Linked DNA regions of Homo sapiens: regions 2 and 3 are each linked to region 1. Evidence: fine-mapped expression QTL. A gene starts in region 1. Each other region holds a variant in brackets. All regions are shown on one strand. Distances are between the middles of the regions.

Region 1 (2,754 bases):
GGGAGGCTGAGGCAGAAAAATTGTTTGAACCTGAAAGGCGGAGGTTACAGTGAGCTCCTGAGCCTCTGCTGCGATTGTGGTGCCTACCCCGAGGGCTGCTGTGAGGACTGGACTGGAATTGGGTGCACATGTTTCCTAATCATTCTAGGACACAATTTCCCCCATCTGTAATCAAGAGAGGTGCGGTGGAGGTGCTCTACCTCCTGACTCTCTGAACCTTAGGAAATGGACTCCTCCAAGCTTCACCTTCCCTGTGCCCATCAGTAATCAGCTACCTTTCCACTAGGCCTCTTGGGCAGAGGCAGGACTTAGGCCCACAGGATGGGGAGCCAGGGAGAGTCTGAGTCAGGGACATCATATCGTGATTAGGAGTCTGTGTTGGAAAAATCATTTTGGGCGGAAGCATGGGTGGAAGGCCATCCGAGGGCTGAAACTGAAGATGGGAGAGAGCCTGAGGCTTATGTTGGGGATGAGGACGGAGAGGACAGGTGGGTTGGAGGAAGCAGATGAGAGTCCAAGGGGGACCTTCCATACCTTTTAGGAAATTGATCACTTTGCCCCATTTTCCGGCATCAAAGGGATGCAGCTTCTCCAGGCCCATGAAGGTGATGTTGTAGCGCGGCGAGTACACGATTGGCCAGCGTGTCTCTGGCACATGCTGGTACAGCTGGGTTGTGTGTAGCCTACCGTGTGGAAAAAGACAGACGCACAGCTGGGGCAGCCTCGGCAGAAAGCAGCTCCCTCCCGAGCCCGCCTGGACTGACCCACCAGCCATTGCCCAGCACCACTAGCCCCTCAGCCGCAGACAAGGGCCCCTCAACAACAGCTGCTTAAACTGGCTGCCTTTCCCGGAACCCAATTCCAATCCAGTCCTCACAGCAGCCCTGGGGGTAGGCACCACAATCGCACCAGAGGCTCAGAGAGCAGACCAGGTGTGCCCAAGGTCACAGTGCAGGTCTGTGGAGAAGCAGGCGTGCACTCAGGTGTGTCTGGCTGCAAGGCCTCCGCGCATCACCTCTGCACCGTAATAAATGCCCCCACAGCTGTGTGGCACAAGGCTTCGGCTGCAAAATGTGTGGCTGTTGTGAGGACTCAGAGAATGCAACTGAGGAGCTGAGCACAGTAAGCACTCAGAAACCCAAGTCGGGACCCAACCTGAGCCAGGGCGGGGGGCGGGGATCCCCTGACCCCGCTGCGCTGCTAACCCTTCCCATCACACCCTGGCAGTCGTCACCCAGAGACAGAAATCCGCCCCAGTGGCTGCCTCCGTGGGGGCGTCCGCGTAGCCAGGGGGCTGGGCAGCGCAGACGTCAGACCCGCGCACATCGCCCGACCGCTCCGGGTCCGGGCCCAGGCCCGCGGCCGGCGCGCGTCCCTCGGGCCACCGAGCAGGGGCGCGGGGCTGGCCTGGCGCGCCGGGAGGGCCTGGAAACACCCGTCCCGAGCGTCCCTCACCCCTCACCAGCAAATCTGGGCCCTTACCTGGCGCGCCCGCCCGGCCGTCCCCGCCCTCGCCCTAGCGCGCCCGCCCACCGGGACCCCTGGGAGCCCACCCCCGCCCTCGCCCCGCGGCACTCACATCCCGGGGCCGGCCCTCCCAAAGCTGGCCGCAGCTCCGCGACCGGGCGGGGCGGGGCGGGGCGCGGGTGGGGCCAGCCCAGGACACGCCCCCGGGCTTAGCCGCGTCCTCTGGGGGCAGAGCTCTGGCCGATTTGGCCCGCCCCGCCAGTGTTGCGACACAGAGAGCCTGCCCGCAGGAAGGCCACCCCCAACGCCCATCAAGCCCGAAGTCCCGCCTCCGCAGGCAAATACCCGGTGGAATCCCGCCTGGTTCGGAAGCTCCGCCCCCTGGCGGGAGGGCCAAGCGGGTTTCACCCCGGCCTCGCGGAAGGGGCGCGACCACCGTATGTCCTGTTCCTGCGCTTCCCAAGCTGGGTAGAAACGGCGAGAGGCTGGGGGTTAGAAACGACAGGTTCCCGGCGGGCTGTGCCGGGGCTTCGCTGTGTGACCTTGGGCTGGCGTCTGGGCTCTCTGGGCCCTTGTTTCCGCGAGTTAAACGTAGGGGCGGGGGAGTTTCTCTGGCCCTGCCGCCTGTGACCTAAGGAGCCCCGTGACCTCTCCGACCCGAGCCCACCCCCGGCCCAGTCTGCGAGCAGCTCCGGGACAAGCACTCCCGGCGAAGACATGTAGGCTCTCAGAGCCTGCGTTTCCCTCTGTAGAGCAGGCCTAGTTACTGTCTTCAGGGTGCACGCGTCTCCGTCCCCGACCCGCACCCTCACCGCCGGGGTAAGCTGAGCCAGGCCCAAGCGACAGCTGGGGTTGTCCGTGGGGCTGCAACCCAGGAGGAGGCCCCAACAATAGAGCCCCAGAGGACGGAGACAATGGGCCTCTCTGTCGGCCCAGCCGTCCCCGCCATCCAAACAGAAGCAGCTGACGGAGGACTGCCGGGCTGGGATCCCTGGGCTCCGCGGGGGCGGCTGTGTGCCAGGGCGGGGCACAAGGGAAGCGCACAGACGTTTGAAGAGGGGCCCCCGTGTGCCTGCCATGATTGCATGATGGCATCTGAGCCTCACAACCTAATCCTGAGAAAGGTGCCATAATCACCCCAACTTTATCTTGAGGGAACTGAGGTTCGGGCCTGGATTAAACCCAAACTCGGCCACCCGCCAGCATAGTGGCTTTGGGCAGGTTGCTTCAGCCTTCTGGTCCTTCATGTCTGCATCTGAAAATGAAGTACTGGGCCGGGTGCGGTGG
Region 2 (2,754 bases), 94 kb after region 1:
GTCTTCCTGGCCTCACCAGCATCCCATTCTTAGGGTAGTGGGGGTATGCCAGAGGAAAGGAGAGTGAGGAGTGGGTCTATCCAACGTCCTGGTTCCTTCTCTGTCCCTGTGGACTAATGTCCACCCAACCAGTGCCTCGTTTTGAGCTGCAACCCTGAGATATTTTTGTTTGCCTAGTGTCTGGAGCACAGGCAGGAACACTGTGGTACTTGGCCTGCCATTTAATTTTGTAAAGTGGCAGACGGAGAAATCCTCTTCTGATTCACTCTCTGTAGTGGGTTTGCTGCATCTGGGAGTCCTGGAAAGTTATGGAAACATGGGGACATGCCCTGTTATAGGGGCTAATCCCGTAGGACTCTGCAGGTAGTACTTAGAGACAGTTTGCTCCTGTGTAGGGCCCAGGCTGGGATGGGGTACAGCCACACTGCTAAGCTGGAAAGGCAGACTTGCTGTCCTGCCCATAGACATTCAGTGGCCCTCCCTGCCTGCGTGCTGGAAAGCAGCCGCCACAGAGCCCTGCCCATGGTGGTGCCCAATACACTTGTCTGTTTTGGACACACTGAAGATATTAACTAGTTGTTAAGTGAGGAAAGCTGTCAGTTGTGACAGCAGGCTTAAAGGAGAATCCAAAGAGTTGCCACAGGACACCAGGCATGCTGAACTGAACTCAGAAAAATGTAGAATGCCCACACCCACAGGAGGGCAGTCAGCTGCGCCTTCACCTGAGGAAATGTTTTTGTGTTTCTGTGGACAAGAATCATTTGCTGTGTTGTCGCTTTTCTACAATGTACACTGCCATCAAACAGGCCAAAGACAATGAAAGGTGCAGGCCTCTGGAGAATCCAGTACCTAAGGGTGCACTAGACAGGGCACCTAGTGATCTTTCTCCCATTGCGAAGTTGCCCACGGGTTTTCCTGAGGAGGCAGGAGGTCACAGGTCGGGGGTGAAAGGCGGGCAGGGGAAGGGGTCAAGGAATAGCAGCCAAGGCTCATCACAGCATATGCCTCTCCTGCTTTTTATGTTGGCCTGGGGCTTCTCAAGTTCCCTGGACCTTGGGCTTTTGTGTGGAGAGAACTTGAGCTCCCGGTGGCCATAGCATCCCTAGAGTTCACCCTGGCTCTCCTCTTTTACTCCAGTTTAATCATGGTTTCAC[A/G]TAGAGATAAACCATGCACAATGGGCAGTCAGTGTGAGGGCTCAGTCTGGGTAATGCCCTTTTTCTGGGTGCCTGCTATACTTATGGAGCTCCCCTGGGACCTCTGGGTTCTGAAAGTGAGGATTTGGGAATGATATCTTGTTTCTTTCCTCTTAACTTCCCTATTCCCATGTTTAAAACATCTCTTTCTCTTGCTCACACCACCACTTCCCCATTCCCTGTCCGCACCTCACTTTGTCTGCCTTTTCTTTATGCCAAGAATGTACGCCCTGCAGAAGTCAGGCTGCTGATTTTGGAAAACATCCTTCTGAACCCGGCCTATGACGTCTACCTGATGGTGGGAACCTCCATTCACTACAAGGTGCAGAAGATCAGGCAAGGGAAAATTACAGGTGTGTCATTGGCTCTGCCATCATGACAGATGCTTCCTTCCTCCTTTTTTTATTGTGGTTACATACATGTAACAAAATTTACCATCTTAACCATTTTTAAGTGCTCCATCAGGTAGCATCAAGTACATTCACACTCTTCTGCAGCCATCACCATCATCCATCCACAGAACTCGTTCATCTTCCCAAACTGAAGCTCTGCATTGTTAAACACTAACTCCCCTTCACCCTCTCCCAGCCCTTGGCACTCATCACTCTATTTCCTGTCTCTGTGAATGTGACTACTCTGGTTACCTCATGTACGTGGAATCATATAGTATTTATTTTTTTGTAACTGGCTTATATCACTTTTTTCCTAGCCTGATGTCTTCAAGTTTCATCCATGTTGTAGCAAGGGTTGGAATTCCCTTCCCTTTTAAGGCTGAATAGTGCTCCATTGTGTGGATGGATAGACCACATTCTGTTTACCCATTCATCTACCCATTCATCCATCAGCAGACACTTGGGTTGCTTCCACTTTTTGGCCATTGTGAGTAATGCTGCTGTGAACATAGTGAGCAAATATCTGAGTCCCTGCTTTCAAATTCTTTGGGGTATATGCCCTTTCAGTGGCAGCAAGTCCAGAGCTGTGGGCTTTGTGTTTAGCTGGGCTTTGCCCCGGTCTGCAACTGACAACTGAACAAACTTGGACAAGCCACTGCCCTTCTCCAGGGCTGTTTCTCATTGGAGGCTTTGAGGCCTTTCTGCCTGGGCTGTGAGGACAAAATGAATCAATAGGAGTGTAGTTGTACTGTGTACTTGTGTTTAGATAGTGACGGTTCTCAATGGAGCGCCAGTCCTCCTAAGGATCATTATCATTTTGTTCAAAGCTGTGTATGTTTAACATCCAGAGCATAGGACCTGAAGGGTCATGGGCATAAGAGCTCTCAGGTCCAGTCCATCCGAGGGCCTCAGTCAGGTGAGTTTGCCAGGTTGGTAGGTTGGTTCCACCTGTGATACAGGGTGTCACTTAAGAGGCAGGCAGATACACACTTCAGCATAAGAGCAACTTGAGTGGTGTCTCCAGTTGATGGGAGGTGCTGCATTGTTTAAAGTCCTGCTCAACTGAGAGCAGTCACCTGGTTGGTCATTCCTGTGTGGCAGAACGCTTTCTCTCAGGAGGACAAAAAAACTGAAGACAGGCGCTCCTGCCTTTGGGCCCAGTTCTTTCT
Region 3 (2,754 bases), 410 kb after region 1:
CACCCCACTGTCCTCACTCCCTAGCCTCCATTTTCGCCACTTCCACTCTCTGGGCCCCTGGTGTGCACCCAAGGGAGCTTTATGGAATCGAGACTCTGTCCCGGTCAGGGCTCAGTCCATCGTGAAGGTGGCACACTGGATGGGATAAAGGATGACAACAAAAGCAGGAGAAGATTTCTTAACCCAATGGGGGAACATCAGGAGGCTTCCAAGAATCAGACCCTGAATCAAACTTGCTAACACCTGAGGTCATTGCTGTACTGGCAGCTTCATGAATGGTGTCTGAATGAAGGATGGCCCTCAATTCTGTAACTACAGCATCCTTTTCATCATCTCTGCAAGGGGCCCCTCTGTCCTCATGGGCATGTCACATCCTGTCACTTGAACACAGGAAGTGAGGCTGTGAGGAGTTTGTGGTGTGTGAGATGTGGGCTGCTTGGCCAGGCCAGTGGAGCACTCGCCTACCCATGCCTGTTCAATCATTCATTCACTGCCTGGAACTGTCCCGACCCCTCTCTTCCTTCTGTTTGGGGGACATGATGACCTGCCGGCCCCCGCAGGAGGCAGTGGTCTCCCTCTGGTGGGATGCCCTGACCTGCTGCTTGCAGTGGGGCCTTCATGAAGGAAGCGAAGCCCTGGTGGGTCTCCCCTAGACAGAAGAAGGGACACTGGTGGGACTGGGCCTGGAACATTCCACACACACACACACCTCCAAGAAACTTGTGCATTGAGCCTTCACCATTATCACCTTGGCTGGGTCAGTTCTGCAGGCACAGTTATCAGCATCTGCTGGACAGTGGGCCTGGGCTGGATGCCAGGGAAGAGCAGCCCCAGCCCACCGAGAGAGATGCAGGGAGGGAACCGGAGGCCCAGTCTTCACTCAAGCACGTGTGATGACCGGTAGCCTTTCTTGCCATGCAGTGATCACTATTAAAAATGGTTATTATGAATGACCCACACAGCACTGGGCTATTTTCCAAGAATGCTGTAGCATCTATCCACCCTTTACAGCCCCAGGAAGCCACTGGGCAGGTCCTGGTTATAACTCAGAAAGACTGGGATATGCAGCCAAGGCCGCATAACCAGGCCTGGGCCTTCACTTCCCTGCCTTCAGCTAGTGTTCATGGTGCACCTGCTGTATGTCCAGCTCAGTGCTGGGAACCACTGAGAGGGTGCTGCTCTCAGGGGATACTGCAGGGGAGAAGGACACAGAGAAATGAAGAAGATAGAGAGCCCAATGGGAATGGATTGAGTGAACTGTGTGGCCACTCAGGAAGTGAGGAGGGCTTCCTGGAGGAGGTGACCTTTGAACAGAAATCTAAATGATTAGGAGGAACTATCCAGGAGAAGAGTGGGGGCCCCGGGTGCAGGGGACAGCAAGTGCAGAGGCCCTGGTGAGGGCATGCTTGACAGGATTGGGCCACAGAGGGAGGATGGTGTTGCTGGAGCAGAGTGGACCAAGAAGAGAGGTAAAGGGGCTGGGGCTGTTCATGGAGGCCCTGGAGTAAAGAGTCACATCGTCATGCTGGAAGCTAAAGATATGAAGAAAAGACTGGGGGTTAAAGAGGTTGGGGAACTGCATTGGGGCCTCCCAACCATGAGGGGGTGTCATGAGCCTGGGGCCTGAAAATTCAGAGGCCTGGCCACTGCCTCTGCCCCTTTGCAAGGCCAGGGC[C/G]CAGGCCTGCTCCCCGTTGTATACCCAAAGCTGGCATGGCCTGGCATGATGTTGGGACTTAGAGACCCTGTCTGGGGTGAATTTTAGAGACTGAGAGGAACAGACTTTTCTGGTAGTTGCTGGACAGGCAGGGCAACAAGTAGCGTCTGCTTAGGCAAGCACCTACCTCTGACCCACCTGCCACCATCTTCCACCAAAGGATCCGTGAAGGACAGGTCCGACATCCACATCCTCCCTGGGCCTCAGAGGAAGCGTAAGGCCTGGATTGGCCCCAGCCCCGGGGCAGGACCCTGCTGGGCCTTGGTCAGCCCATGGTCAGCATCTTTTCCCAAGTGCCCCAAGCACAGGCACTGGGCCTAAGCCTCCTGCTCTATGTGGTGGGGCTGATACTCCCCTTCCAGGGTTTGCCTGCGGGCCAGCAAGCAGGCTGGGCCCCAAGCTCAACAAGTGTCACGCCATCCTTGTCCCTCCCTGGAGGCCCTTTGTTGAAGCCCCCCAAGGCCCCCTGTGCCCCTAAAGGACCTGGCACCATCTCCTCAGGGCCCTGGCCTGCCTCCTTGCACTGACTCACTTGGTCTTTAAGAATAACAACAAAAGTGCCTTATCTTGTTGAATCCCACAACTCTGGCAGGGTGGTTGTGTGCCATCCTGTTTTCCAGGGAAGTGCCTTGCTCAGGGTCACAGCCAGTGAGTCTGCCTGACTCCAGACCCTGCTCCTCCCCAGCCAGATCTGTGTGCCCTTGTGGGTGGGGCCAGTGGGCACCCAGTGCACAGAGATGGGATGAGGAAGGGAAGGAGGGTGGTCAGGGGGCCCAGGTGTTGGGGGACCTGACGCCTTACCCTGAGCAGGTTCCAGATCTCTTGGCCGCAAGGCTCTGTCCCTCCCCACCCCTTCCCCACTGCATGCACTACCTGGAATGTGTTGGTCACTGCCACTGTGGCATGGCTGCCCCCAGCCTGCTTGTCCTGGGTGCTGAGGGTACTTGTCCCACAGTGGCTGGGAGCCCCCCACCCAATGCCTGTGGACCAGACCAGTTTTGTCACCACCAGTGGGGGCTTAGGAGGCGTTGCTCCTGGGT

The links.
Region 2: its variant is fine-mapped to the expression of HDAC11 in whole blood (INTERVAL, PIP 0.96).
Region 3: its variant is fine-mapped to the expression of HDAC11 in cerebellum (GTEx, PIP 0.95).

Annotation. Positions count from the first base shown.
Region 1 is chr3:13,479,175-13,481,928 of GRCh38, reverse strand. HDAC11 (histone deacetylase 11) reads right to left here and starts at 1,623. Exons shown (of 10, transcript NM_024827.4): 1 at 1,580-1,623; 2 at 535-683. The coding sequence starts at 1,581. It overlaps HDAC11-AS1 (HDAC11 antisense RNA 1), which reads left to right and starts at 1,876. Exons shown (of 2, transcript NR_046690.1): 1 at 1,876-2,286. RefSeq lists enhancers at 902-1,558, 2,208-2,267 and a silencer at 1,258-1,747.
Region 2 is chr3:13,385,067-13,387,820 of GRCh38, reverse strand. NUP210 (nucleoporin 210) reads left to right here. Exons shown (of 40, transcript NM_024923.4): 6 at 1,414-1,546. Among named protein-coding and RNA genes, the nearest start is that of NUP210, 34 kb to the left of the region's middle. The variant A/G (reference allele first, on the strand shown) is at 1,155.
Region 3 is chr3:13,067,346-13,070,099 of GRCh38, reverse strand. All of the region lies in intron 1 of IQSEC1 (IQ motif and Sec7 domain ArfGEF 1), which reads left to right. Among named protein-coding and RNA genes, the nearest start is that of IQSEC1, 4.7 kb to the left of the region's middle. RefSeq lists enhancers at 99-268, 279-358. The variant C/G (reference allele first, on the strand shown) is at 1,676.